Regions from separate parts of the Homo sapiens genome. Here region 2 is linked to region 1. Evidence: fine-mapped expression QTL. A gene starts in region 1. The other region holds a variant in brackets. All regions are shown on one strand. Distances are between the middles of the regions. Region 1 holds the start of CAPN11 (calpain 11). Region 2 holds the start of LOC105375072 (a long non-coding RNA gene).

Region 1 (13,563 bases):
GGTGAAATCCGTACTGCAGACCCTGGACCAAGCTAGCAACCTTCACTCTATGCTGAGCCTCCTGAAGGGAAGTGTTTCTCCTCAGCCTGAAGGCTGGCAGAACCTGCCCCATCTCTGTTAACAAAGGCATCGACAGATGATTCATTGCTGAACTTATCCCCCTTCCTCTTGCCACTGCCCCAAGCAAACCCCTTCTCCTGTTCCACACGAGTACCTCCTTGGGATTTCCTCAGGTCCTATAATGAACCCCTGTTCTCCTGGTCCCCCAAGATCCCAACACACCGCATCCCACATCAAAACAGTCATGGAGTCCTTCACAAGGGCATCCCCTCCTAGGACCCTAATTTCTCATTGCTACCATCACTGTCCGAGGCCAGGGCCTTCAGACAACCCCCAGACCTCAAATGGCCTCTTGTCTCCTGAAGACCCTCTCCAATTCATCACATATGCTCCCCCGACCACATACCACACCAACTCCCTTTGAGTGAGGTTTTGAACCCTTTACTGCTTCTGGAAACTTTCAGGACATCGCTTTGCCAGCAGGATAAGGCCAGCCCCCAGAGCCCCCTCCAGCCCTGGGCCCACTACTCCCAGTACAGACCCATCCCTTTGACCCCTCTTGAGTGTTCCAGACTTGGGGAGACCCTGTCTGTCCAAGCAGCTTTCCTGAGCTCTGTGCCCCAGGAGAGACAGTCCCTCCAGCAGTCTCCTCAACCTCATCCTCCCCTTCCCTCCACCTAGCCAGTGAGCTGGGGATCTTCCCAGACCCTGTCACTATGTCCCTTGCATTGTCTACTGCACCCTCTTAGCATCTCTCCTGTCCTCCTCCACACAGCCCGCGATAGGGGCTGCCCCTGTGCAGAGCCACATCCAGTGCAGTAAGCAAGGACTGGAAGCCAAGCATCCCCTCACAGGGAGGCCTCCCAAAACATCACTTTATCTCCCCATGCCTTGGCTTCTCCACCTGTGAGATGGGTGATATTCTAAAGTGTTTGCATTTGTTTCTGACACAAAACTCACTCAATAAATTAACCTTAAATAGCAAAAATCTAGGCCAAAAGAATGATTCCCCAACTGGCCCCTTTCTTCTAACATCCTCCTCCCCCACTAGTTCTCCACAGTGTTAGCTGAGATTTTGAAAATGCAAACCTGGGGCAGCATGGTGGCTCACCTCTGTAATCTCAGCACTTTTGGAGGCTGAGGCAGGTGGATCACTTAAGGCTAGGAGTTCAAGACCAGCCTGGCCAACATGGTGAAACCTCGTGTCTACTAAAAATACAAAAATTAGCCAGGTGTGGTGGTGCACACCTGTGGTCCCAGCTACTCCTGTGGCTGAGGCAGGAGGTGGCTTGAACCTGGGAGGTGGAGGTTGCAGTGAGTTGAGAGAGCACCACTGCACCCCAGCCTGGGTGGCAGAGAGTAAGACTGTGTCTCAAAAATAAATAAATAAATAAATAAAACATAACATAAAATAAAATGCAAACCTGATTATACATACCGCTCCCCCTCCCCAGTACTTTAGATGTCTCTCCCTTGTTAGCATGACAAACCCAAACCAGGCTTCCACCTGCCATCTGGCCCCACGACTTTCTGCACAGGTTACCCTCATTCCTCTTCCCATCCTTGTGCCTCTGCCTGCAATCATTCCTGATCCCATGCTCACACTGGGTCCACCGGGGAAAAGTCCTGTTCAGCCTCCCAGTGCCTGCTTGATGCTGCCTCCTCTGTGAAGCCTCCCCTGTGGTGTCCGCGCAGAACTTGGGGCTGCGCTAGCATCCTACACTTTTGTTAGGACACCCATCACTACCTGCCTTCCCTGAGTTGACCTGTCTGCCTCCTCTGTGAGGCTGTGAGCTCTCAAGAGGAGAGGGTGAGGCCACCTTGTATACTACTGAGTTTCAAAATGCTGGCTCAATAATGCTTGCAATGAATGAACAGATGCCTTGCTTGGTATTGTGGTTAATTGTTCATAGATGTTTTCTCTCTTCCACCCCTCCCCTACTCCCTATCCTGCAGCAACCCCAATATACTATATATTTTGTTTATTGTTTACCTCCCTCATGAGTGAAAGCCTGTGAGGGCAGGGATTTTTGTCTGTTTTGTTTGCTGCTGTATTCCTGCTGCTGTATTGAGTACATAGTAAGTGTTCAACATAGATACACTTTTTTGAGACAGAGTCTCACCCTGTTCCCCAGGCTGCAGTGCAGTGGCACAGTTATGGCTCACTGCAACCTCAAACTCCTGAGCTCAAGCAATCCTCCCTCCTCAGCCTCACGAGACCAGCAAGGGGAACATGGTGAGACCCCTGTGTCTACAAAATAAAAATTAAAAAAAATTAACTGGGCATGGTAGCATGTGCCTGTGGTCCCAGCTCCTTGGGAGGCTGAGGTGGGAGGATCACTTCAGGCTGGGAATTGGAAGCTGCAGTGAGCCATAATCCTTCCACTGCACTCTAGCCTGGGTGACAAAGTGAGACCCCCCATCTCAAAAACAAACAAACAAAAAATAATAAGGTTGAGGAGACTCAGGATCCTGAATTTTGCTTCTCCACAGAGCCTGTAACTTGTGATGAGAAGATATTAGGAATCCTGCCTCAGTTATGAGTAGTGAGCACTTATATAGCATTTCTAAAAATAATAATAGTTAGCAGCGTTTGAGGGCTCACTACATGTCTGGCACTATTCTAAACACCCGATGTGCATTAGCTGATTGAATCATCCCAACAACCCCACTGGTTAGGCTTACTCTTATAACTTCCCTGCTATAGACAGAGAAACTGAGGCAGAGAGAGGCTGAAATTCCTCAGACTCGGTGGGCATTAGAGTCAGGGCAGGCTGCTCTATGCTCTCAGCCATCAGGCTCGCTGCCTTGCTGGGAGGTCGCCATGGTGAGGAGCCATGGCTGTGCTGGAGAGGGATGAGTGAGTCAACTGGCCTTGGTGCGGCCCCTTCGTCCATTGTACTGCAACTTGTGTGTGGTCTTTGTGAAGTCACTTCCCCTGTGTGGAGCAGCTGACAGGGGGTGTTGAGGATGGATAAAGGTGTTGGAAAAGGGGTGGCTTGTCCCTTTTTAGCAGAGCTAATGCCCTGGGCTGCACTGGAGCCAGAGAATTAGCTGTGTGACCTTGGGCAAGTTGTTTGACCTCCCTGAGCCTTGGTTTCCTCACCTGTGTATAGAGGCTGCTGCATTCTACCTGCGAGGGTGTTTCAGGATTGAAGAATGCAACGTGTGAAAAAGACTGGAGTTTAGCAGGTGCTCAGAAAACGTTACTCACCTTCTCCCCACTGACCTAGTTGGTCAACTGGTATTTGTTGAGCTCCTTCTAGGATCACATGGCCCATGCTCTGTGTCACATATGTGTCCCTCCATCATAGGATTTAATGATACTAGTGATATTACTCCAATATTGGAGTCATGTGTGTGCTTGTCTGTCTTTGCCACTGGTTTGAGCTCCTGAGAGCAAACCCTAACTCGTGTTAGGCATGTTTTATGGAGAATTTATTCTGGGCTGGTACTGAGGGGTCAAAGTGAATGCACCCCCAACATGGAGCGTGGAGAAGACCCTCCCATGCGATTCCTCCCCCAGGTTCAGCTCCATGGGCCGCAAAGACAGGAGAAAGTGCCATGAAAAGGGGCCACCAGGTTGATGGGATCATCAGGGAGGTTCTGTGGGGGAATGACTATCCCCCTTTCCCTATTCTAAGCACATCCCATTCCCCTGAGGGTGGGGTGCACTTTGACGTCCTGGTTCTGGAAGCATCAGGGCTGGGAAGCAGGGAAGAGGGTGGGTAGAGCCAGAGTCTGGGAGTTCTCCTCGCTCTTTTCTCCCTCCATTTTCCTCAAACCCTGTCTCTTCTAACCCAAGCCCTCTGGGATTATCTTAGAAATGGTAATGGAAGCTCCCTCACCCCCTCGGGCTATGATTACAGGTGTGTGTGTGTGTGTGTGTGTGTGTGTGTGTGTGTGTGTGTCTTTATTCAAAGAGACTGTGAGGGGGGCTGCGGGGGCGGGGTTAAACAGTGGAGCCCCTTTCAGATGAAGAGGGTTCCGAGGGAAGGGTGGAAAGCAGTCCTGAGAGGGGAGAGCTGAACACCTTCTGTTTCAGCCCCTGATCCCTATCTGTGAAGCTGGCGGATCAGGATGACTATTCCCATCTGAGCTGGGTGGAAGCCAGGGCCTCCACAGAGAGATTGAGTCAGAAGTTCTCAACCCGGGGTGATTACGGCCCCCAGGGAACAGGTGGCAACGTCTAGAGGCAGTGTTGGTTGTCATAACTGGGGCAGGTCTCAGGGGAGCTACTGGCATCTAGTAAGTAGAGGCCAGGGATGCTGCTGGGCGCCCCTCAGTGTAGAGGAAAGTCTCCACAATAAAGAATTTTCCAGTTCAAAATGTCAAGAGAGCTGGGGTTGACAAACCTGGGTTGAGCGAATCATCTAAGGTCATTCACACGATAAGGCAAACCACTCCATGCCCTTGCACCGTGCAGTCACTCCAGGCAGCCTCTACCCTGGCTGCTCCGAGGACTGAGGGTGTTGAGCTCTCCTGGGGGCCTGGAAGGACCAGGGAAGATGCTGTTGTTTGAGAAGACTGAAAGAACATCAGAGGGCAGGCCAAGGCAATTCAGGTTCCATCTTAACTCCCTTGTCTCATTTCCCCAGAGCCCTCTGTCCCCTAGTCACCATCCAGCCCAACAAGTCATTTCTCACTGTCTGGCCCCCAAACCCTGCTTCGAAGCTGCATACCCAGTCCCCAGGGTGTGAGGTCATTACTCAGCTCTGACTTGCAGGAAGGACTGACACACCTATCCACACCACCACAGTTGTCATGGAAAATGTCTTTAAGTTGGGCACTGTGGCTCACGCCTGTAATCCCAGCACTTTGAGAGGCTGAGGTGGGCGGATCACCTGAAGTCAGGAGTTCAAGACCCGCCTGGCCAACATGGTGAAACCCCGTCTCTACTAAGAACACAAAAATGAGTTGGGTGTGGTAGCACATGCCTGTAGTCCCAGCTATTCAGGAGGCTGAGGCAGGAGAATCGCTTGAACCCGGGAGGTGGAGGTTGCAGTGAGCCAAGGTTGGGCCACTGCACTCCAGCCTGGGCAATAGAGTGAGACTCCACCTCAAAACAAACAAACAAACAAAAACACCAAAAAAAAAAAAAACCCAAAAGAAAATATCCCCTTAGAGAGGGCAAAAGATCCAAGCTGTCACATGGGCTAGGAGCGTGAGAAGGCTGAGACAGACAGACCAAGGCTGCCTGTGGGAAGCACAGACAGATGGCCAGAGCAACACAGTAGCTCCCCTTAACCCTAGGGGTACGTTCCAACACCCCCAGTGGACACCTGAAACTGCGGGTGGTACCAAACCCTGTATATATCAATACTATGTCTTTCCTTTATGTACATACCTATGATAAAGTTTAGTTTATAAATTAGGCACAGTAAGCAGTTAACCATAATAAGTAATAAAATATAACAAATACAACAATACAATAACAGTAATGTGAATGTGGTCTCTCTGTCTCAAAATATCCTGATGTTTTCAGACTGCAGTTGACAGCGGGTAACTGAAACTGCGTGGAAAGCAGGGGCTGCTGCATGTTAAAAGGCATGAATGGACAGGAAGCTTTCTGCTGCAGCTGCACATCCTGTCTCCTCCATCAGACTGAGAACCTACAGATCATTTTGTTGTTGTTGTTGTTGTTGTTTTTTGAGGTTTTTTTTGAGGCGGAGTCTCACTCTGTCGCCCAGGCTGGAGTGCAGTGGAGCGATCTTGGCTCACTGCAAGCTCCACCTTCTGGGTTCACGCTATTCTCCTGCCTCAGCCTCCCGAGTAGCTGGGACTACAGGCGCCCGCCACCACGCCTGGCTTATTTTTTGTATTTTTAGTAGAGACAGGGTTTCACCGCGTTAGCCAAGATGGTCCCGATCTCCTGACTTCGTGATCTGCCCGCCACGGCCTCCCAAAGTGCTGGGATTACAGGCGTGAGCCACTGCGCCCGGCCAGATCGTTTTTAACTAAATCAGTTTTATTTTATTGACAAAAAAAGTATATATCTGTTGTATACGACATGGTGTTTTGAAATATGTATTCACTGTGGAATGGCTCAGTTGAGCTAATTAATATCTGCATTACTGCACATACTTGTTATTTGTTTGTGGTGAGAACACTTAAAATCTACTGTCAGTGATTTTCTTTTTTTTTTGAGATGGAGTCTCGCTGTGTCGCCCAGGCTTGGGGTGCGGTGGCACGATCTCGGCTCACTGCAACCTCCACTTGCTGGGTTCAAGAGATTCTCCTGCCTCAGCCTCCCGAGTAGCTGGGATTACAGGCGCCCGCCACCACGCATGGCTAATTTTTGTATTTTAGTAGAGACACGGTTTCACTATGTTGGCCAGGCTGGTCTCGAACTCCTGACCTCAGATGATCCACCTGCCTTGGCCTCCCAGAGTGCTAGGATTACAGGCGTGAACCACTGTGCCTGGCCTCTCTCAGTGATTTTCTAAATGCAATACATTGTTATTAGGGGACTATAGATTTAAGGACAGTTTGATTTCCGGCACTGGGAAAAAACTAAGATGTTGTGTCAGGGAACTTTAAAAAAAAATAAATACTAATAAGTAATAATAATAAATAAATAAATTATATTTTGAGATGAGGTCTTGCTATGCTGACCAGGCTGGTCTTGAACTCCTGGGCTCAGGGCACTTCTGAAGAACAAGGACTGGGTTTGGGGTCACCAGCTAGGCCTAAACTTCCTAGGGTCAGGTAAACAGGGAGGGCCTGAGAAGCTGGGAGGCTGGGTCTAGGGGCCCATGGTCTCACGGTGCCCCAGGCTGAGGGTGAGGTACAGGGCTGACCTTCTGCTGGCCAAGGCTGGCTGCCCTCTGTGCACCCTAGCCCCACAGGAACAACTCAGTTCTGCCCAGCCCTCCCCTTCCCCCCAGCCCACTCTCCCCCATCTCCTGGAGTCTGGTCCCAGGCTTGCCTCAGGTAGTCCTGCCCCTGCCACCCTGAGGATCTCATCTTCCTGGGCTGAGGGACCTGCTTTTCTAGGCTTAGGAGAGGTTCTCTCTGTTCCCTAAAGTTTTCTTCTCTACGTGGGCTTTTTCACACAAACCCTTTTCCCCAGCAGCCATGACAGTGGGATGGCCGGCCCCTCTCCTCTCCCCAACTCCAACTGTCAGTGGAGAGGAGAAAGAGTTCCTGCCCGGCCTACCACCCAGTCTGACCACCAGTGGCCTATCCTTCCCCAAACAGTCTGAGAACGAGGCCCAGGTCCTGTCCTTAGGGAGCATCCAGTCTGATGGAAGAGTCACTCTCTGTACCCTCAAGGGGCATCCAGTCTGATGGAAGAGTCACTCTCTGTACCCTCAAGGGGCACCCAGTCTGATGCGGGACACAGCTCCTCCCCTGGGGGGAGGCTCTAGCCTGCAGGAGGTACAGGAGTGGGGCAAGGCCCCATGAGTGCCTACCTGGGGAGTACAGCATGCTGGTGGCTAGCTCGGTGCTTGACAGTTGAAGGTTCTGGTGGGAGGGGGAGAAGAGACCCTCCCCCCAGAACTCTCTCATTGCAGTGGGATTCCTAGGTCAGCAGCCGGTTTAACAGCTGCCTTCCCTTTTCTCCTTCTCAGTAACCCAGCCCCTTACCCAGCTGAGGGCTACCCGCTTTAGGGACAGATGACCCAGCACCCCTGCCTTGCACAGCCTCCACCAGCCTGGCTGTCCTCACTGTATCACGGTCATCCCATCAGGGTAGGTCCCAGTCCCTTTTTTTCAGCCCAAGGTTTCCAGGAAGGGGTTGTCCCTGACACACCAACCTGACCTTTACATCCAGAAAGCCTTCTCATTCCCAAAAGCCCCTTTCTCACTGACATGGCATTTTTCCTGTGTTGCTGTCTTCACATGGCACCCTCCTCTGTGTCTCTTCTTCTTATAAGGACACCAGTCATATGGGGCTAGGGTCCCATGCATTTCAGTATGACCTCATCTTAATTGAACGAATTACATCTGCAACCACCCTGTTTCCAAATGAGGTCACATTCTGAAGTACTGGGGGCCAGGACTTCAACATGCCTTTTTGGGGGACACGATTCCACCTGCAACACTCTCCTTGCCTAGCCCCAGTCTGGCAAGGTTAGGCCACTGGTCTGACCACATGTCCTGCCTCTGCACTGGAAAGTGGGAATGCTTTGAGCTAAGAACTCTGCTCCAGAGTGCAGTCTTCTCTGGAGTGTATGATGGCTGAGGACAGGGACTGTCAAGGTCATCCCAGTGCCCCTCAGCCCTGCCTGGTGCTAATCAGGCACAGAACAGGTGTGAGAGCACCCAATGGGATCAGAGAACCTTGTTCCAAGCTCTGAAACAGGAGCTGACCTTGGGCGAGCCCTCCCCCTTTCTCCTTTCTGGGACTCAATCTCCTCATCTACGAGAATATTAATTATGGTTTGTTATTATGTGCCAAACACTGGGCTAAGAACTTCCTACTTATTTAATCCTTAAAACAGCCAGAGGCCATGACATTGCTATTCCCATTTTATAGATGAGGAAAGTGAGGTCTAGAGGTATGATGCAACTTGCCCAGGGTCACACAGCTGTTAAGCGGTCGAGCCAGGATTTAAACTAATAACTTCAGATTTTTTTTTTTTTTTTTTTTTTTGAGATGGAGTCTCGCTCTTTTGCCCAGGCTGGAGTGAAGTGGTGCAATCTCAGCTCACTGCAACCTCTGCCCCCCGGGTTCAAGCGATTCTCCTGCCTCAGCCTCTCAAGTAGCTGGGATTACAGGTGCCCACCACCATGCCCAGCTAATTTTTGTATTTTTAGTAGAGACGGGGTTTCGCCATGTTGGGCAGGCTGGTCTCGAACTCCTGACCTCAGGTGATCACTCGCTTCGGCCTCCCAAAGCGCTAGGATTATAGGCATAAGCCACCGTGCCCGGCCATAACTTTAGCTCTTATCCGTATCTTCTGCTGCCCCCAGCTGTGAAAGGAGGAAGTGGTCTTTGGGGATCCTGTGGTCTCCCCTGCCCACTCCTGATTCCACTATTGCACCTCTTGGATGCCTCTAATGTGATCTGCCTGGACATGAACTCTGTGACGAGGTGCCAGGGGTAGGGTGCAGGCAGGCACGGGTGTTCCTCTCTATTACAGCCTCCCACCCTGGGGGAGGGCTGTCCTCAGGACTCTTGCTCAGTGTGCTGCTTGGGCATTATCTGGAGTTTCACATTTGGAAATGCTGGAACCTGGCTTTGAACTTCAGGCCCTGCAGGAAAGGGAAGGCATGCTGGGCAGATGAGGAATGAGAGGGTCTCGGCTAACCAGAGGTGGGGGCTGAGGTCTGTCCAGGCCATGCTTTGCAGACAAGGGGGCTTGCCAGGCAAATGGCGGTGGTGTGCCTGCCCATCCATACGGAAAACAGGCTTCGGGAGCACCGAGAAGCCTTCACACAACCAAGGTGCTCCTTTCAAAGCCATGCCAATATTTGTCCAACCACCAGCAGGCACTCCCTTGGCCCCAAGACTTTGGGGACTCTACCTGGGAGCTCATGTTTCACAACTGCAGATCTGACATACATATGCAGGCTGAGGCCAGGACCAAGGCCTCAACTTTCACCTCCACTGTCACTGGCCCATCCTCCACCCACAGCCCGCCCATAAACACTGACCCTCCAAGCTGTGTTTGCCGCAGCTCCCTGCAGCCTGGGGCTGGACCTTGGGCGCTCTTTGCTCCTGCTCCTTGCTGGCGCCTGGGCAATCTTTATCAGGCTTGCTGTGTTTGCTGTTCCTGCTGTTGGTGGTTCCTGTTGACTTTTGTGGAACCTGGTTCTCCTCCTCCTCTGAGGTCTCTTTTCTTCCCTCTAAGAGTTCCTTTTTCTTCCTTTTCTTCAGGGTTGCAAAGTGATTTAGTGACAGAATAAGGACTGGAATGCAGGCCTCCTACAGTACATGCAGTACATGCTGTGTGTGCATGTGTGTGGGTGTGCACCACATGGCTCTGTGGGCCTTTGCAGGGTGGGCTACAGCAGTCACAGGACCTTTTTTCGAGGTGATTTTTTTTTGTTTTTTTTTGAGACAGGGTCTTGCCCTGTCGCCCAGGCTGGAGTGCAGTGGCATGATCTCAGCTCACTGCAGCCTCCACCTCCCAGGTTCAAGTGATTCTCATGCCTCAGCCTCCCAAGTAGCTGGGATTACAGGGGTGCACCACCATGCCCAGCTAATTTCTGTATTTTTTGTAGAGATGGGGTTTCATCATGTTGGCCAGGCTGGTCTCGAACTCCTGAACTCAAGTGATCCACCCACCTTGGCCTCCCAAAGTACTGGGATTACAGGCGTGAGCCACCGCGCCTGGCGAGAAGGTGAATTTGAGCTGGGTCTTGGAGAATGGGTAAGATTTGACTGGAGGGTGGGAGGGGGCTTCTCATTGAGGAGATCAGGCCCTCCTGGGGAAGGGACAGATGGGCTGGCGCCAGGCTTACTTTGAGGTGCTCAGAAGGGCCTTCGTCCTGGCCCAGCATGGACCCTGTGGCTTTGCACGACCTTTTCTCCCTGAATCTCTGTCCCATGTGTGTTGCTCAGGGACTCAGGGGAATGATCAGAGTGGGCGAGGCTGGTATGGTGGCCACCTGGGCACAGGGGCCCTTCCTGCCTCTGAGATATCCCTTAAGTCTCTCCCCAGCCCCACTCTCTCCTCTCAGTGACACAGAAATGAGACTCTGAACAAGTCCCTTGCCCAGCGTCATGCAGGGACCTCAAAGAGGCCCTCCAGATAGGAGGGTGGGGACCCGGCCCAGGTGCCCAGGGCAGCACAAGTCAGACACCTGCCTCAGAGCTTTTCTTTGTTTTTATTTTAAAGGAAAAAAACAAAAAAGAACAAAAAAACCAAAAAAAAAACAGTGCAAAAACCCATTTTCCAGTGTCAGCCTTGCCCACCCCCACCCCCAGGCCACCCCAGCTGTGAGCCTGACTCTTCCTCCCACTCAGCACCCCCTCCCCCCTCATGCATCCCCTAGGGGCTGGAGGCTCCACTTCCCTGGAGGGCCAGATCCCAGGAGGAACTGTGGGGTGGAAAAAACGGAGGGGGGGGAACAGCCCCAGATCCACCTGCCCCCCAGGTCTCCAGCCACCGGCACCAGGTGCACCAGGTACTCCTCTTGGCTCTCATTAACCCTCTCCTGGTCATGCTACTAGCTGGGGAGGGGTGGGGGGTACTGATCTGGGGGAACTCCCTCTGCACCCCTCTTTGCCCCGGGGCCGGCTCGGGGCTCTCCTCACTGAGGTTGGGGGGCTCCCTCCCTCCATCATGGGGGAGAGCAGTGAAACCCCCAAGTTTAAATACCTTAATGAAAGCAGGGGCTGGGGAGGAAGGGGCTTTAGATCTAATAAATTATTAGCGTTTTAGTGTCCGTGGGAGTGGGGGTGGGGTGGGGCAGGATGTGGCCTCCAGGGCCCCTCCCTCCCCTTACTGGTGAATCTCATTCTCTATGAGGCTGTCCTCGCAAGACTGGAAGTCTGTGTCCGTGAGGGCGTCGGGTGGCATCAGCAACTCCTCATCTTGGGATGAGGATGATGGGGGCTCATCCCCTGAGCTCCCAGGAGCCCCATCCCCATCCCCGTCCACCTCTGAGTCCTGCAGCACCTGAGCGATGTATTTCTGAAGGAGGAGAGGAAATGGGGGCAAGGTGAACAGCTGCCCCTCATGGATTGCGGGAACACCAGGGCATGTAGGACAGCAGAGTGGGCAGGGCCCTGGGGGGCGGGGGCAGCCCTCCAGGGAGACCAGCTCTCTTCCCGCCCCCATGGGGTCTGGCACAGGTTCCCCTTTCTGCAGGACTAAGGGAACACTGGGCTTTGAGGCTGAGTCTGTCAGAGGCCCCTCCCAACCCTTGAGGGCACTCACCGCAGATTTGGGGACAGCAGCAGCAGTGGGGGGCCGTCCATTGCTTCTGGGGTCCACAGTATCTGTCTCCGTGTGCTCAATCTTGAGGGGCCCAGAATGAGTCAGGAAGTGGGGGCATGTCCTCAGCCCTGATCATGACCCCACGCCCGCTTGGCCCTGTTGGCGCTGCCCTCAGCCCTCGCCAGCCCTGTGGCCCTCTGCATTCCTCCCCTTGAGCTCCTGCCCGCAGCCATCCGCCTGCCACCCTTGCCCCACACCTTGTAGTTGTGGGCACTGAGGTATTTGAAGTGTCCAAAGCAGACGTGGCAGAGACAGATGACGATGGTGATGACCAGGACCACAAATGTGAACATAGACGTGGGAGCTAGGAACCCTGGTGTTGGGGGGCAAAGAATGGGGTTGCTATCTCCTGTGGGCCTCCCCACCCCAGCTTCTGATACCCTCTGAATGCAGTCCTCACTCTCCCAGGTGCTACAGACTGGCCCCAGCCTCTCCCAGGCCCCTTGCCTGCCACCCCCAGCCATGCGGCTTCTCCTGTGGCCTGCTCTGGCTGGAATCCACTCTGCTCGCCACCCCCCGTTCCCTGGGTAGGGATCCCTCACCCGTGCGCATGGTGGAAAAGAAGAGCAGCCAGAAGAGGCAGAGGATGGGCGCGGCCACCACCTGGTTCACAGCCCCCGAGTGGATCTTCTTGTCCAGCTTGGCCGGCAGGTAGGCGTAGTAGAGATTGTACCTGTCTACCAGGTGCTTCAGCAGCATGTACATGAGCCCTAAGGGAAGCCACATGGGCCCTGACCTCGGAACCAGTGCTGCCGAACCTTTTGTGTGTCTGTCACAGGTTGTTCTGGTCCTGAGAGTGCTGAAGGGTTGGCCCCCTCCTCCTGCCCGGGCCCCAGGACGGGATAGTGCCCCGTGCCCCAGCGTGATCACAGAACTTCAGCTTCCTCCGCTACAACCCCTCATTCTACTCTCCTCATCAGGAATTCTACTATTGGAAATCTAGTCATTTGAATCAACAAGCATCTTCTTAAAACCCGTATCATTTTTCTCTAACCCTGTCCCTAAACAGATACGTATAAATTAAGGGACAAGTTCTATTTCCCCAGAGGCTGAGGGATAGGGAGTTTCTAATGAGGACAAGGAAGTTAGTTTGGGAACTTGGAGCCTTCAATAACCAGGGAGGGTTGGTTAAGGAGTTAGGATGTTATTAGGGAGGAAAGTAGAGGCTACCAGTGGGGGTGATGGTTAAAGAGAAACTTTGCTAAACTTCAAAAAGGAAGAGAGACCTGGCCAAGTCACATAGCTCAGATACAGCAGACTATCTCCATGAGTGGCAAGGACCCATCCCACCCTGGAATCCAAGTCTTTCCTGAGTTTACAGGGTGGTGTAAAAGTGTGCACATGGATGCCTGTGTGGGAGTGTGTGTGTGAACATGTCAGCACGTATGTGATCTGTGTCCAAGCACATCCCGCTGAGGGAAGGCACAGGTGTGGGTAAGTATGGCCATGTTGGTGTGACTTTGCCCTGGGGCCCACATGCCAGCTGGGTCTGGCCTGAGCTGATGGCTCTCCCCCTCCTCCCCACAGGCCAGGCCCCAGACTGAGCCAGGGACCGGGCGGGAGCCCCGAGGGGCCGGTCTCCCAGCCGGGCCCTGTCCACTCGGGGTGG
Region 2 (15,803 bases), 26 kb before region 1:
ATTAGCCATTCTGTGCCTCAGTTCACTTTTCTGTGAAATGGAGCCAATTTGTTAGGATTAAGGGCATAATACAGGTTGAATGTTAGAATGGTACCTGGTATAGAAAACATGTCAGGTGCAGTGGCTCACACCTGTAATCCCAGCACTTTGGGATTACACCCAGCCTGGGTGACAGAGCGAGACTCTATATGGAAAAAAAAAGAAAAAGAAAACATAACAATGTAAATATTCAATGACTAGTAGCACTCTTTGTTATATCCCAGAGCTCATATTCATTTATCCTATTATTATTTACAAGTATATGGTTCAATTGGCCCTTATAATTTTCCCCTGAGTGTTCTCTTCCTTGACAGATGAGTAAACTGAAGTTCAGAGAGGGCCTCGGTGACAGAAAAGGGTGGTAGGAAGACAGTCAAGGTAAAAAAGTTTGTGCATCAGACCTGGGAGGGTTCCAATTCCAGCTGGGGCACTTTGGCCCTTAAGAGGCATCCTGGATGGAGAGCTTTGAAGTTCAAAATAGGAAGCGGTCACGTTAGCTGGGACCGCCATTGGTTGCTTTAGTCAACACACTCTTGTGCAGGCTCTCGAAGTACATCAGAGAAAAAGACAGTCCTGCTCTCAAGATATGGTCAGTAGGAGAGGCAGGAGGAAACAGGAAATTACAAGACAGAAAAAGAAATGGCCTGCACCTTAGGAGTCCAGGACACTTGGCCAATGTGTGAAAAGTGAGAGCTGGCTTCCTGGAGGGTGGAGCTTTAACCCGAGGCCTGGAGGAGTGGCCAGAGAGAGAGGAGGGCTTCCAAGAAGAAAAGAGGGGGTGTCCTGGGAATGAAGAATGGGTAGAATGTGACAAACAGCCCCTCTATCCATGCTGTAGGGAGGGGGTTAGGGTTCAGGTGAGGAAGAATAGGAGCAGACGGGAGCCAGACAGTGGGGTGAATTCAGGAAATGCTTAGCGGACCTGAGGCGTCAGCCAGCCACAATGCTCAGGCGAGTCCTGGACGTCCTTCCTGGCTGTGTCACTTACAGAAACAGGGAAACCAGGACCCTTTTGGTGGATGAGGTGATGATCCAGGTTCCCAACAGGATTCTGAAGCCCTGTGAAACCTAGCGTTTGACGTCTCTGGAGGGAGTGGATGGGGGGCAAGAGAAAAGTGGGTGGGGGAAGGGGGGTCAAGGAGAGAATGAAGCTGTTGTGGGGATGAGCAGGATGGGAACTTGGAGATTCCCACGTCAGCACCTCACTCACCTTCCTTGGAAGACAGAATAAGCCCAGAGAGCTGTCCAACAGGTAGGAAAGTGCAGTTACAGACTCCCACAGGGATGGAGTCAGTTTAAGACAATTATTTTGAAATTACTTTGTAAATAAACACACACACACACACACACACACACGCAAGCGCGCACACACACAGAGGCACTGATAAAGAGCAAGAAGAGGCCGGGTGCGGTGGCTCACACCTGTAATCCCAGCACTTTGGGAGGCTGAGGTGGGCAGATCACCTGAGGTCAGGAGTTCAAGACCAGCCTGGCCAACATGGAGAAACCCTGTCTCTACTAAAAAATGCAAAAATTAGCCGGGCATGGTGGCACGTGCCTGTAATACCAGCTACTCGGGAGGCTGAGATAGGAGAATCGCTTGAACCCAGGAGACAAAGGCTGCAGTGAGCCAAGATCCCGCAACTACATTCCAGCCTAGGAGACAGAGTGAGACTCTGTCTCAAAAAAAAAAAAATTATAAGAAAAAACAAAAACGGGCTGCGCACAGTGGCTCACGCCTGTAATCCCAGCACTTTGGGAGGCTGGGGGGAGCTGATCACCTGAGGTCAGGAGTTCGAGACCAGGCTGGCCAAGGTGGTGAAACCCCATCTCTACTAAAAATATAAAAGCCAGCCAGGCGTGGTGGTGGGCACCTGTAATCCCAGCTACTTGGGAGGCTGAGGCAGGAGAATCGCTTGAACATGGGAGGCAGAGGTTGCAGTGAGCCTAGATCACACTATTGCACTCCAGCTTGGGCAACAGGAGCAAAACTTTGTCTCGAAAAAGAAAAAGAAAAAGAAAAAGAAAAAAAATGTCCAGTACAAAAATGGGCAAGGACAAGAGGCTCAGGCAGGAGGATCACTTGAGCCCAGGCGTTCCAGGCTATAGTGCCTGATGATCCCCCCTGTAAATAGCTGCCATACTCCAGCCTGGCAACATAGTGAGACCTTTAAAAAAAAATGTATATATATATATATAAAATATGTAACTCTATATTCTTTGGGAACATATATATAACATATATGTTACATATAATATATGTATTTAATATATAACATATGTTATATATACACATATATATGTAACATATATACCATGTTATATATAACATATATTTCATATATATAACATATATGTTCCCAAAGAATATAAAGAGATAGTTCATAGAAAATAAAATGCAAGCAAAAGCAAAAAATGAACAGTTGCTCAATCTCATTTGCTGTAAGAGAAATGCAAATTATGGCTATGCTGAGATACCATTTTTCTTCTACCAGATTAGAAATATGTAAAAACTTGCCCACACACGGTGTTTATGAGTCTGTAGGGGAAAACGGCAGTCTCTTATCTTGCTTGTGGGAGTACAAATTAGTATTACCCTTATAGAGGGGAATTTCCTTTTTTTCAGAATTACTGATATACATACTCTTTAGCCCAATAATCCTACTTTTAGAAATTTATTGTATAAAAATATTTTACTGGGATAAAATAACATGTATAGTGTTATTTATTGCAGCACTATTTATAATAATGAAAGATTGGAAAAAACTGTCAACAAAGAACTGCTAAATAACGAGACTTTAATCCAGTGCAATACTATACAGCTATAAAAAAAATAAGGAAGATCTCGGCCAGGCACGGTGGCTTATGCCTGTAATCCTAGCACTTTGGGAGGCCGAGGCGAGCAGATCACTTGAGGTCAGGAGTTCAAGACCATTCCTGGCCAGCATGGTGAAACCCCGTCTCTACCAAAAATATAAAAAATTAGCCGGGCATGGTGGCGGGTGCCTGTAATCCCAGCTACTCGGGAGGCTGAGGCAGGATAATCGCTTGAACCCGGGAGGTGGAGGTTGCAGTGAACCGAGATGGCGCCATTGCACTCCAGCCTGGGCAACAAGAGCAAAACTCCAACTCAAAAAAAAAAAAAAAAAAGGAAGCTCTCTATATACTAATAGAAAAATATCTCCAAGATATATATTTTAAAATTGCTTTTAAAAATAAGCTAGCTATTGGGCTAGGCACAGTTGCTCATGCCTGTAATCTCAATACTTCGGGAGGTCAAGGCAAGAAGATCATTTGAGCCCAGGAGTTCGAGACCAGCCTGGGCAACACAGTGAGACTGTCTTTACAAAAAATTAAAAAAAAAAAAAAGCTGGCCATGTTGGCGTGCACCCATAGTCCCAGCTACATGGCAGAGTGAGGCAGAAAGATCACCTGAGCCCAGGAGTTCAAGGCTGCAGTGAGCCATGATTGTACCACTGCACTGCAGCCTGGGCGACAGAGGGAGACCCTGTACCTAAACAAAACAAACAAAAAGCAACCACAAAAAAACAAAAGAAGCTAATGAGCTCATCCTGCTTTACTTTTTCTTCACTCAGCATCTTCTCAGGCTCTACAGCTGTGGCTGGGTGGCATCTAGTCTGCTGCTTCTGTTGCATGGCATTCCATGGTTTTCAAGCACATTTGGGACCCAATTTTCTCAGAGACCAGAGGATGAAGCTGCGAAGATATTCTGAGGGAGAAGAGAAGTGGGGTTGAGGCTGTTTCTCTGATGTAGCCTCATTCTTTGCAGTAAAAATGAAGGCTGTAGTGAGAGGTCTGGGGGAAATCAGGGCAGTGGGTGTGGAGAATGGCAGTCAGTCATCAGGAGAAGAAATCTAGCTTGCCACGTGGCCTCCATCGAGGTCAACCAGCATGAATCAGGAGGATGCAGGCAGCATGGTTTAGTGCCCATTCCCAGCAAAACTCAGCCACCTGGTTTTATGAGCAGAGGACTAAAAGGGACTAGAAAGTATGGGCTGCCTGCCTGTGGTTACAGGTCCCTTGGAGACAGCAAGGACATAGTGGGAATGGCCTCCCAGGGCACTAAGGCTGAGCTGGGATGGAGTTGCAGTGAAGTTGGATGGAAATGGAGCCTGAAGGGACTAGAAGAATGGTGTGCCTCATTTTCCAAATTTTAAATAACATTGTATATAGCCATTGCTAATAATATTTAATGCAAGCAAATGGTAAACACTAATGTCAAGGACTATTGTAAATCTAATATGCATCTTGCTTATTCAACTGTATGTCATAACCCTCATGCCATTTGTGTTATTTAGTTCAATGGCTTGATATTTTATCGTGTGTAACATCTAATGTGTATTTATTTATTTATTTTTGAGACAGAATCTCCCTCTGTTGCCCAGGCTGGAATGCAGTGGTTTGATCAGAGTTCTCTGCAGCCTTGAACTCCTGGGCTCAAGCAATTTTCCTGCCTCAGCCTCCCGAGTAACTAGGACTATAGGCATGACCCACACCACTCCTGGCTATAACATGTTCACAATTGAAAATTTGTTTTTTTTATTTTTTTACTATTATAGATAATATCAAAGTTTTTTTAAAAAAGAATGATATGCCTAAGTGCTTCACTTTCATTATCGCAGTTGTCCATACAACAGCCCTCTGAGATAGGAATTGTCACCTCTAATTGACAGATTCAAAAGGATACTCTGTTAGAAAGGTAAAATAATTTGCCCAAAGACACATAGCTCGTGAATCTTCACCTTAAGCCACTATGCAAATTGTTGGGAAAAGAAAATAACTTTTATTTGGTGAGGTGGCAGGTGCCTGTAATCCAGCTTCTTGGGAGACTGAGGCCTGGGAATCGCTTGAACCTGGGAGGCGGAGGTTGCAGTGAGCTGAGATCGCGCCACTGAACTCCAGCCTGGGCGACAGAGAGAGACTCTGTCTCAAAAAAATAAAAATAAATAAAATAAAAATAACTTTTATCTGAGGAATGCAAATCCTTTTAATTATCAGACCCAGAGAGACAGTAACATGACACACAATTGCACCCTATACCCTGCACTCCCCTTTAAGTTATGTATTCATCTCTTGAAACTGCTTGCTACTTCTACAGGTAGCTATAAATTATCCTAATAATGGGACACCAGACACTATAGCCAATAACTAATCAATGTTATTTCTGAAAACCGGTGAGAATTCCTAACAAATAACTTTGTATCATTCCACTCACTGTCCTCCTTTTTTACCTTTCTTTTCTTTTCTTTTTTGTTTTTTGAGACGGAGTCTCACGCTCTCACCCTGGCTGGAGTACAATGGCGCAATCTTGGCTCACTGCAACCTCCATCTCCCGGGTTCAAGCAATTCTCCTGCCTCAGCCTCCCAAGTAGCTGGGATTACAGGTGCCCACCACCACACCTGGCTAATTTTTTGTATTTTTAGTAGAGACGGGGTTTCGCCATGTTGGGCAGGTTAGAACTCCTGACCTCGTGATCGGCCTGCCTCGGCCTCCCAAGGTGCTGGGATTACAGGCGTGAGCCACTATGCCCAGCCCTTTTTTACCTTTAAAAATGCATTTTGGGCCGGGCACAGTGGCTCATGACTTTAATCTCAGCACTTTGGGAGGCTCGGGGGGGTGGGCGGTGGGGCAGATTACTTGAGGTCAGTAGTTTGAGGCTAACCTGGCCAACATGGTGAAACCCTGTGTCTACTAAAAATACAAAAATTAGCCATGCATGGTGATGTGCACCTGTAGTCCCAGCTACTCAGGAGGCTGAGGCAGGAGGATCACCTGAGCCCGGGAGGCAGAGGTTATAGTAAGCCAAAACTGTGCCACTGCACTCCAGCCGGGTGACAAAGAGAGGCCCTGACACACACACACACACACACACACACACACCCCAAAACAAAACAAAACAAAAACCTTTTTGTTTTTTGAGACAAGGCCTCGCTCCGTCACCCAGGCAGGAGTGCATTGGCATGATCACATTTCACTGCAGCCTCGACCTCCTGGACTCAAGTGATCCTCCCACTTCAGCTCCCCACACAGCTGGGACCACATGTGTGCGCCACCAGTCCTGGCTAACTTTTTCTTTTCTTTTTTTGAGATAGTCTCACTCTGTCACCCAGGCTGGAGTGCAGTGGCACAATCTCAGCTCACTGCAACCTCCGCCTCCCGGGTTCAAGCGATTCTTATGCCTCAGCCTCCCGAGTAGCTGTGACTACAGCCGTGTGCCACCACGCCTGGCTATTTTTTGTATTTTTAGTAGAGATGGGGTTTCACCATGTTGGCCAGGCTGGTCTTGAATTTCTGGCCTCAAGTGATCTGCCCACCTCAGCCTCACAAAGTGCTGGGGTTATAGGTGTGAGCCACTGTACCCAGCCTAAAAATCCACTTGTAACTGCTGCTAATCGGGATGTATATTCAGAATAATTTGAATCTATTCTCCAGGGTTACAATCCTTAAGTTTAGCCCAAATAAACTCTCTACTTATGTGAAGTTTGCTTCATTTTATGTTTACAGAGTGTTCGTGAGTAACCAGCTTTGTTACAAACCGGAAGGGATAGTCCTGATTTGAGAGTTTTCTGCTTCCTTTCCATCCTGGCTTGAAGTTGGCAGCATTTCACCCTAGGCCATGGAACAAGAGGTGGGGTCAGCATCTTCCTAGGGTTCCCAGAACCAATCCGGACTGCCCGGGACCTCTCAGAGTCTCAAAGGACCTGCTAGGTTTTTGTTTTTAAAAGATGGAGTCCCCGTGTTGCCCAGGCTGGTCTCAAACTCCTCAGCCTCCCGAGTAGCTGGGATTACAGGCATGTGCCACCATGCCCAGCATGGACCTGTTAGCTTGAGGCTCTCACTGACCTCTCCCTGCTCTCTCTGGGGACTTTTGCTCATCACTCAGAGAAGCTCTGTGGAGAGCAGGTGGTGGCTGCCATCTCTTAGAGAGAGAGGGAGGACGACAAGTGGGAGAACAGTCTTTCAAAGAGGCTCCAAAGAGAGTGTGACCTATTCTTTCAGGCAGGACTGGAGACGGAGAGGAAGCAGGGAGGGCTGACAGGACAGGAAACGATTCCTCTGAAGGCGGCGTGGGGTGGTGATAATGGAGGGAAGGCGGCTTTATATCCAGGCAGACTAGCTTTAGTCTTTGAAGTCACAAAGAAGGCAGGGGCCAGGGCTGGTGCAGACAATCAGTCACCAGATTAAGGAAGATCAGAATCCCACCTGCCTCACTAAGCACACAAGGGCTGGGTTTAGTGCACGTGGAAGGAAGCTAGCGACCCCAGGAAGCTGCACAGGTACACAGAGACAGGAAGGGTTTAGCTTCATTGGGGATGACAGATCTCTAATCTAGGGGAAGTTGGGGGTGCTGTCTCTACCTGAGAGGCTGAGAAGCGCATGTGCTTGGGCTCCAGTGTCCCTGCCAGAAACCAGAAGGGGAGGCTGTGGAGGGCTCTGGAAGGACAGGAGGAGAAGTACAGTTTAGGGGCTGCTGTGAGTGGCCTGGGTGTTCTCACTACTGCAGGGGGCTGGGGCTGGAGTTGGGGTGTGGGCACCTGGGACAGAGACCCCGAGGTCAAAAACAGGTGGACCCAGAAATAAGTGTTTCTTCCATGCCTCCTGCAAGGACAGTAGCTTGACAAGCAACAAATTTCTTTTTTTTTTTTAATTTTCTTTTTAATTCTCAGCAAGGCAAGTTACTTCTATATAGAAGCGTGCGCCCTTATAGATGGAACAATGGTGAGCACACATTTGGACAAGGGAGGGGAAGGGGTTCTTATCCCTGATGCACGTGGCCCCTGCTGCTGTGTCGTTCCCCTATTGGCTAGGGTTAGACCGCACAGGCTAAACTAATTCTGATTGACTAATTTAAAGAGACTGACAGGGTGAGTGCTTTGGTGGGAGTCAGGGCAGAGCAGGTAGCAGGTGATTGGAATAAATTAGGGTGGAGCAGGTGATCGGAATGAGTCAGGGTGGAATAGGTAATTGAAAAGGTTGCTTTACGAGGAAGTGAAGTTTAAAAATAGAAGGCAAAGAATTGAACATACTGACATATTAATTCTTTGAAAAGAAATTTAGAACTCATATCTAACAATCCCTCCCCTTGTATTTCCTTACAGCTTTCTTTTCATACTTTTTTTTTTTTTAACATGTCTTGACTTAGTTGCTTTGCTTGATTTTCTAAAAGAAGAAGCTTCTCTGGATAAGGTGGAGGATAGTTAAGGGAGGTTTTAGTAAGTGGACAGGCAACAAATTTCTAACAATAATAATAATGATTTGAATCTGAACACCTTTAAGGCAGGAACGAGTTCACCTATTGCCACAGTCCTCAGCCTTCCCAGTCCCACACGAGGAGGATTTGTTCATTTATTTATTTAA[A/T]TTGTTTTTGAGACAGAGTCTTGCTCTGTCACCCAGGCTGGAGTGAAGTGGTATGATCTTGTCTCACTGCAACCTCCACCCCCCAGGTTCAAGCAGTTCTCCTGCCTCAGCCTCCCAAGTAGCTGGGATTATAGGCGCGTGCCACTACGGCCAGCTAAGTTTTGTATTTTTAGCAGAGACGGAGTTTTGCCATGTTGGCCAGGGTGGTCTCAAACTCCTGACCTCAGGTGATCCACCTGCGTTGGCCTCCCAGAGTGCTGGGATTACAGGCGTGAGCCACCGCGCCCGGCAGTTCGTTCATTTATGTGACCTGCTGGCTGCAGGTGTCAGATTTTTAACCTTCGAGGCTCCTGCAGTGCCACCTTTGGGGACCCCAGTTTGAAGCAGCAGATGAGAGTCCTGGAGCCCTGGCTCAGCCCCCGTAGAAGCGCTCCACCATAGGGCACACCACACAGTTCTTCACAGGGAGGGACTTGTGTGCTTAGCATCTGGCACTGCCCATAAACGCCAACTATGGCCTCTAGTTATTGTGACAACTGCACATTTCTATATGCTCCCTATCACCCTTGGCTGAGAGCTACCCAATCCTTTGGTCCTGGGTAAGTGACTTCCACCCTTGCCAGTCTTTTCTTGGCATAAAAACACAGAGACATGGAAGCCAATGGCATGTGCTATTTATTAGAATAGTATCCACAGATGGGGAGGAAAACAGAGGCTGTGCCAGGATGGGTGGTCAGCAGGTAGGTGTGAGCAGGACAGCAAGCATGGAGGGTAAGAAACGGGCTACAAGTCCCTTCCCTATTCTTGGCCTCCCCAGCCAGGGGGACCCTGGGGAAGCATCAACTACTCTTTAGTAAAATATACTCTGAGAGAGCGATGGTGGGGGAAAGCCAGCCATCAGAAGCCGGGTTGGGGAAAAAAGAGAAAGCCTCTGAGCTGGGGGAGTGGGCACGGAGGTCCCACTGCTGCAGTAAACACGGCACCTGGGACCCGGGCACTGCCACCTGGAGCCCATTTCATCAGCAGAGACCGGAGAGCTGAGGGCTACAAGAAGCACCCCACCCTCCTGGGCTAGAACCTCGCTGCTGCTGCTGCTGGTAGAGATGACCAGGCTCCTACAGCGCCTCTATCCCCACATGGTCATCTGCAGCCACTGTGGAGACAGGAAGCAGATCCCAGGGTGGGAAGAGACGGGGGCAGGATGCTGGCCCGGGGACATCAGAGCTGGGTGGGGGTGGGGTTGAGGGGCAGGCAGGTGCAATCCTGCAGATTCCTTCCCACCCTTCTCCAAGTACCTGTTCCAGGCTCAAGCAAATATGGCCAGTATTCTTGGGGTCCATGGTTAGAAAGAATGCTGCGTTACAGAGGAAGCGGGGGAGAGGGGCTGAATGCTAAGTCAGTGTTCCGAAAGAACCACTCCCAACTAGGTAGGAAGGGGCGACACCAGGTGTTCCTGGCTGTTCCCCACATAAATCCCCTAGCCAAGTGGGGAATTAATGATAGCAACTCACATAGCCTCACCAGGAGCCAGGCCCAGTTCTGATTGCCTTCCATAGACTAACTGGTTTAACCTGCACCTCAGTCCTTTGAGGGCAGTACTATTATTATCCACATTCTAAAGAGGAGGGAATGGAGGCACAGAAAGATTAAGTGACTTGCTCAAGTCACCTCTGCCAGCAAGTGGCGGAGCTGGGCTTTGAATCCATTTCATGTGTGCCTTGTAAGGGGGAGGGGATCTGGAGCAGCACCCATCAGGGTGGGTGTTTGGGAAAGGGCCCGCGGCCCCTGGCCTAGGCTGGGGAGTGGGTAGATGCCTAACTCACTGAACATGGTCTTTAGCCTCAGGAAACAGCTGATGAAGCTGTCAAAGTCTATGATCAGGTCATCATCTGCATACCTGGCCACCAGGACCTGCATTACCTTGTTGTTCAGCTTGATGCCTGAGAGAGGGAGAGAGAAGTGGGGAGGGGAAAAGTCTGGGCCTCTGGACACTGCCATCCTCTTCCCTGCCCCAAGGCCCACTCCTGACCCTTGGCCACCTGCTTTCTCAATAACCAGGCGCATCTCATAGGAGTTCAAGGTGCCTGAATGGTCCTGGTCACACTCTCTGAAGATGTCCTGAAGAGACAGACAGATATGGTAGGGCCACATGCATGGCATGGTGGTTGAAATAATGAAATACTGAGGCCGGGCGCGGTGGCTCATGCCTGTAATCCCAGCACTTTGAAAGGCCGAGGCAGGCGGATCATCTGAGGTCAGGAGTTTGAGACCAGCCTGGCCAACATGACGAAACCCCGTCTCTAATAAAACTACAAAAATTAGCTGGGTGTGGTGGTGCATGCCTGTAATCCCAGCTAGTCAGGAGGCTGAGGCAGGAGGCGGAGGTTACAGTAAGCAGAGATCGCACCACTGCACTCCAGCCTGGGCAACAGAGTGAGATTCCGTCTCAAAAAAAAGAAAAAGAAATACTTTAGGACAGTTGGCTCACAGCAGTGGCCTAAGACCCCATGCCCCCCTCCAACCCTGGCCCACTCCTGATATTCCTATCATCTGGTGACCTAAGGGTTAATTCCAAGCATGGGTTGTCGGGGGCACTGGTGCCCTGCCCAGCGCTCTTTGTGTGCATCCTTCATGACTAGATGATACCTGAGCTATACTTGTTATAAAATATTTTGACTGGGTAATATGCCACACTCCAACAGACCCTTTTCATGTGTGTGTGTGGTGTGGTTGTGTCTGTATGTGAGTGTGTGTGTGTGTGTGTGTGTGTGTGGTGTGGTTGTGTCTGTATGTGTGTGTGTGTGTGGTGTGGTTGTGTCTGTATGTGAGTGTGTATGTGTGTGTGTGAGTGTGGTGTGGTTGTGTCTGTATGTGAGTGTGTATGTGTGTGTGAGTGTGGTGTGGTTGTGTCTGTATGTGAGTGTGTATGTGTGTGTGTGTGTGGTGTGGTTGTGTCTGTATGTGAGTGTGTATGTGTGTGTGTGTGTGGTGTGGTTGTGTCTGTATGTGTGTGTGTGGTGTGGTTGTGTCTGTATGTGAGTGTGTATGTGTGTGTGTGAGTGTGGTGTGGTTGTGTCTGTATGTGAGTGTGTATGTGTGTGTGTGAGTGTGGTGTGGTTGTGTCTGTATGTGAGTGTGTATGTGTGTGTGAGTGTGGTGTGGTTGTGTCTGTATGTGAGTGTGTATGTGTGTGTGTGGTGTGGTTGTGTCTGTATGTGAGTGTGTGTGTGTGTGGTGTGGTTGTGTCTGTATGTGAGTGTGTATGTGTGTGTGTGGTGTGGTTGTGTCTGTATGTGAGTGTGTATGTGTGTGTGTGAGTGTGGTGTGGTTGTGTCTGTGAGTGTGTGTGTGTGTGAGTGTGGTGTGGTTGTGTCTGTATGTGAGTATGTGTGTGTGAGTGTGGTGTGGTTGTGTCTGTATGTGAGTGTGTATGTGTGTGTGTGAGTGTGGTGTGGTTGTGTCTGTATGTGAGTGTGTATGTGTGGTGTGGTTGTGTCTGTATGTGAGTGTGTGTGTGTGTGAGTGTGGTGTGGTTGTGTCTGTATGTGAGTGTGTGTGTGTGTGTGTGGTGTGGTTGTGTCTGTATGTGAGTGTGTGTGTGTGTGTGTGAGTGTGGTGTGGTTGGGTGTGTGTGTGTGTGTGGTTAGGGCTTGGGTTCTAGCTTCCCCTCATTAGTTCCATCTCTCCTAAGACCCTCTTTTCCTCACCCCTGGAGGCTGCCCCTTTAGTGCCCTTTACCATCCATTTCTTGAGTTTTTTCCACAGGATCTTGAACTCTAGAAGCCCCAGCTTGCCAGAGCCATCTTTCTGGAAGGTGGTCAAGGACAGCAGAGAAGGAGTGAAGAAGGCATCCCAGGGGATAGGGAAGCAGCGGGGGTTCCTGAGGGGACACACAAGCCCTGGGGTTCCGGTACTGTAGCAGCCAGAAGAACTGGCATCTTCTGCTACCCCAGAGCCTAATCCCCATCAGGGAGGAGGACGTGGCTGGCCCAGGGTGGCCATCTCTGGGCCAGGCTTGTGGGCAGGGGACAGGGCCAAGAGAGCACTGGACAGGAGGATACATCCATGAGGTTGATCATGCAGCGGCAAGCATCCAGGCCAAAGCCCTTGGTCTTGAAGCTTTTGACTGTGAGGAAGGGAAGGGGTAGAAAGGAGAGACAGGGTAAATGAGGTATCGTGGGGGCACTGGGAGTGATCAAGAGGGGCACAAAATATGGGGGAGGGGTCGTGTGCAGCAGGAGTGGAAGACTCACATTTGATGGCCATCCTGTTGAGCAGCCTCTGGAGCTCATACACCCCTATCTCCTTGCCCTAGGAAGGGGAACTGTGAACCCCACTCGGGCCCCTCCAGCCCCTCATCCCCCTCCTGTCAGCCCTCCGCTCGTGGCCTGCTCACCTCTCCTGCCACTATCTTAAACAAATGTAGGAAGTCCTGGTCCATGTCATCCTCAGAGACCTTTTCCTGGGGGCCGGGGAGCAGGAAAGGGACCTGGTCAGAAAACTTCTTTCACAGGCCCAGGAGCTTCCTTCCAACCCCCAGCCCTACAGTCTCCCCTCACCTCTTGGAGTTGCTCAGCATAGTTGACTTCATCCAATTCCCTGGGCAAAATGATTGAAAGCTCAAGAGTTACCAGGGGGAGGGAGGTGGGGGTTTTAGTGGGGTGCTCTGGGGGTCATGTCATGTCTTTGAAGCAATATAGGGCAGCTCCATGGAATATGGGTTCTAGTTCTAGTTCTGGTTCTGCCACTAACTGGGACTTCACCTTCTCATGCCTCAGTTTCCCTGACTGTAAAATAGGGACAAAGTGAGGGAGGACCCGACAGCAGCTCCCTGAGCTTGATATCCTGCAGCTCTTGGGTGGCGGGCCTTGGAGCAGTGAGCTGCAGCCCCTTACCATGACTCGCTGTGCTTCTCGGTGAAGACCCGAAGCAGGAAGTCAGCATCTCTGTGTGGCTCAAAGGTGGAGGGAATAATGATATATTCCCCCGGAGGCAGCCGGAGTTGGCTGCTCACCTCCCGTGAGTTGGTGAAGATCTCTGAGAAGCCGTGGTCCTGATACTTCGTGAAGAATTCCTTCTTCAAGTGGACATCCTGAATGTTCTGAAACTATATGCATCCTGGAAGTGGGTACAGGACTGGCATGGGAGGTTAGGGAGGGAGGGTCCCCCAGGGTGAACAGCCTGGCCGGGCAGGGTTGGAGGTAGGTGCCACCACCAACTGACCTGGCCTGGACACCATCTAAGTGGCCCGCAACTCCAACAGGGTCTCTTCCTTTCCCGACCCCTACCAGCCCTGAAGAGGGCTGGAATCCTAACCCAGTGACCCCCAGAGCCTCTCGCCAAATTCCACCCTTTGCCAATCCACTTGCAGCCAGGGGTGGAGTGGGTATGTGTCCAGGAACAAGCCCCACATCTTTATCTTCTGTACCTCTTTTGGGACCTGGGAAGGGAAGAAAGAGGAGAGTCAGATCTCTAGGGTGGTGAAGGGCCTCAGGCCTTCAGAAGCCAAGTGGGATGTGTATAGTGTGTGTCTGTGTGTGTGTGTTGTTGGAGGGGTATTAAGGGCACTGGGATACTGGTGGTGGAGTGGGGCACGGGCTCTGACAGTTCAAAGGTCCTGGCATTAACAATCCCTCTGCTGCAGAGGTGGGAGGATTGCTTGAGCTGGAGGTCAAGGCTGCAGTGAGTCACGATCATGTCACTGCCCTCCAGCCTGGGCAATAGAGTGAGACCCTGTCTCAAAAAAAAAAAAAAAATTCCTTCAGCTTTGGATAGGAAAGTACAGTTTATGCAAGGTAGATTTTTATCATTCCAGGTTAAGGGAAGGAAACAGAATCCCAAAGATGTGAGGTGATTTGTCCAACCTCAGATGGCTGAAAAGTGAAAGAGTTAGGATAAAAATCTAGGACAGTGTTTTGCTTTTCCGTGGAACACTCATATCCTGCAGGAAGTGAATAGAAGATTACTAAAATTGAGGATCGAGGACAAATAAGTTTGTAAAAATGTGAGTTAAACCAAGTTAAACAGGTTGCTCTATTGCAGAGGTGGCTTATCAGCACCTCAGTGTGCTTGTGTGCACCGGAGAGCTCAGGCTGCAGTAGTCTTTCCTGAGCTTTTTTAACCTTGAAGATGTCTTTGAGACAGGGTCTCACTCTGCGCCCAGGCTGAAGAGCAGTGGTGCGATCATGGCTTGCCGCAGCTTCGACCTCCTGAGCTCAAGTGATCCTCTCACCTCAGCTTCTCGAGTAGCTGGGACCACAGGTGTGTGCCACCATGCCCGGCTAATTTTTTTTTTTTTTTTTTTTTTTAATCGAGACAGGGTCTTGCTGTGTTGCCCAGGCTGGTGTTAAATTCTTTGGGCATCCTCCAAGTGATCCTCCCACCTCGGCCTCTCAAAGTGCTGGGATAATAGGCATGAGCCACCTCCCCCAGCAAAAATGTTATCCTGAGGCACCAGTCTGTTAGCCTGGTGGACTAATGGCCCTAAGAGTAGGGCAAGGCTTGTGTCTGTTTTGCTCACTATTGAACCCCTGGAGACTGGACAGGGGCCTGGCACACAGTAGATGCTCCATAAATACTTGCTTATATAAGGGAATGCAAGTGAATGAACAACATTCTTTTGGAGAATGTGGAGAATTTTGCAAAGCATGGTTTGGCTTGGGAAATGCTTATCAGGGCTTTCTCTTGGCTCCTGGAGTGAGTACTGCTGGTGGGGCAGACAAGGGGGATGGATTGTCGGGCGGGGCGTGTGGAGAAGTCTCAGAGCGCCTGGGAATCAGGACACAGGCTTGGCCTCTGACCCTTGGATGTGTGAGCTTGGGCAAGTGACTTCATGTCTCTGGCCCGCAGGCTCCTTCCGCTTCCTTAAAGGCATTAGTAGTTAGTATTCCTAAGACCTTTGGAACAATGCCTGGCACAAAGGATGAAATCTGTGAAGAGAAAACTGCCGGCTCTGGCTTGAAAGGCACAAAGCACCATTCAAGAGTCAGGGCTCAGCCTGGGCAACATAGTGAGACCCTATCTTACGAAAAATTTTAAAAAACTAGCAGGACAATTGCCTGTAGTCCTAGCTAGTCAGGAGGCTGAGGTGGAAGGATTGCTTGAGCCTGGGAGGTCAGGGCCGCTGTGAGCCGTAATCACGCCACTGCATTCCAACCTGGGCAACAGATTGAGCTCCTGTCTTAAAAAAAAAATCAGGGCTGTGAAGCCTGTTGGAGCCTGTCCCTCTCCCAGGCAGGAAGTGGCCCTGGGGAGAAAGGAGTGAGGCCAGGCAGCCGGGTGTGGTGGCTCACACCTGTAATTCCAACACTTTGGGAGGCCGAGACAGGCAGATTACCTGAGGTCATGAGTTCCAGACCAGCCTAGCCAACATGGTGAAACCCCG

The links.
Region 2: its variant is fine-mapped to the expression of CAPN11 in sun-exposed skin (GTEx, PIP 0.98). The same link has a PIP of 0.9 or more in whole blood.

The regions. Positions count from the first base shown.
Region 1 is chr6:44,152,777-44,166,339 of GRCh38, reverse strand. CAPN11 (calpain 11) reads right to left here and starts at 7,520. Exons shown (of 23, transcript NM_007058.4): 1 at 7,476-7,520. The coding sequence starts at 7,491. TMEM63B (transmembrane protein 63B) reads right to left here. Exons shown (of 24, transcript NM_018426.3): 21 at 12,497-12,664; 22 at 12,152-12,267; 23 at 11,895-11,975; 24 at 10,821-11,648. The coding sequence ends at 11,457. LOC107986599 (a long non-coding RNA gene) reads left to right here and starts at 7,737. Exons shown (of 3, transcript XR_002956350.2): 1 at 7,737-7,755; 2 at 11,008-11,139; 3 at 12,363-12,502. RefSeq lists a silencer at 4,701-4,790 and an enhancer at 6,174-6,343.
Region 2 is chr6:44,177,675-44,193,477 of GRCh38, reverse strand. It overlaps CAPN11 (calpain 11), which reads right to left. Exons shown (of 23, transcript NM_007058.4): 13 at 13,848-13,859; 14 at 13,315-13,526; 15 at 12,979-13,018; 16 at 12,816-12,881; 17 at 12,673-12,730; 18 at 12,481-12,545; 19 at 12,158-12,226; 20 at 10,459-10,537; 21 at 10,243-10,359; 22 at 9,715-9,773; 23 at 9,077-9,572. The coding sequence ends at 9,546. It overlaps LOC105375072 (a long non-coding RNA gene), which reads right to left and starts at 7,495. Exons shown (of 3, transcript XR_926835.2): 1 at 7,420-7,495; 2 at 6,598-6,670; 3 at 3,537-3,769. It also overlaps a transcript of MYMX not described here. The variant A/T (reference allele first, on the strand shown) is at 8,420.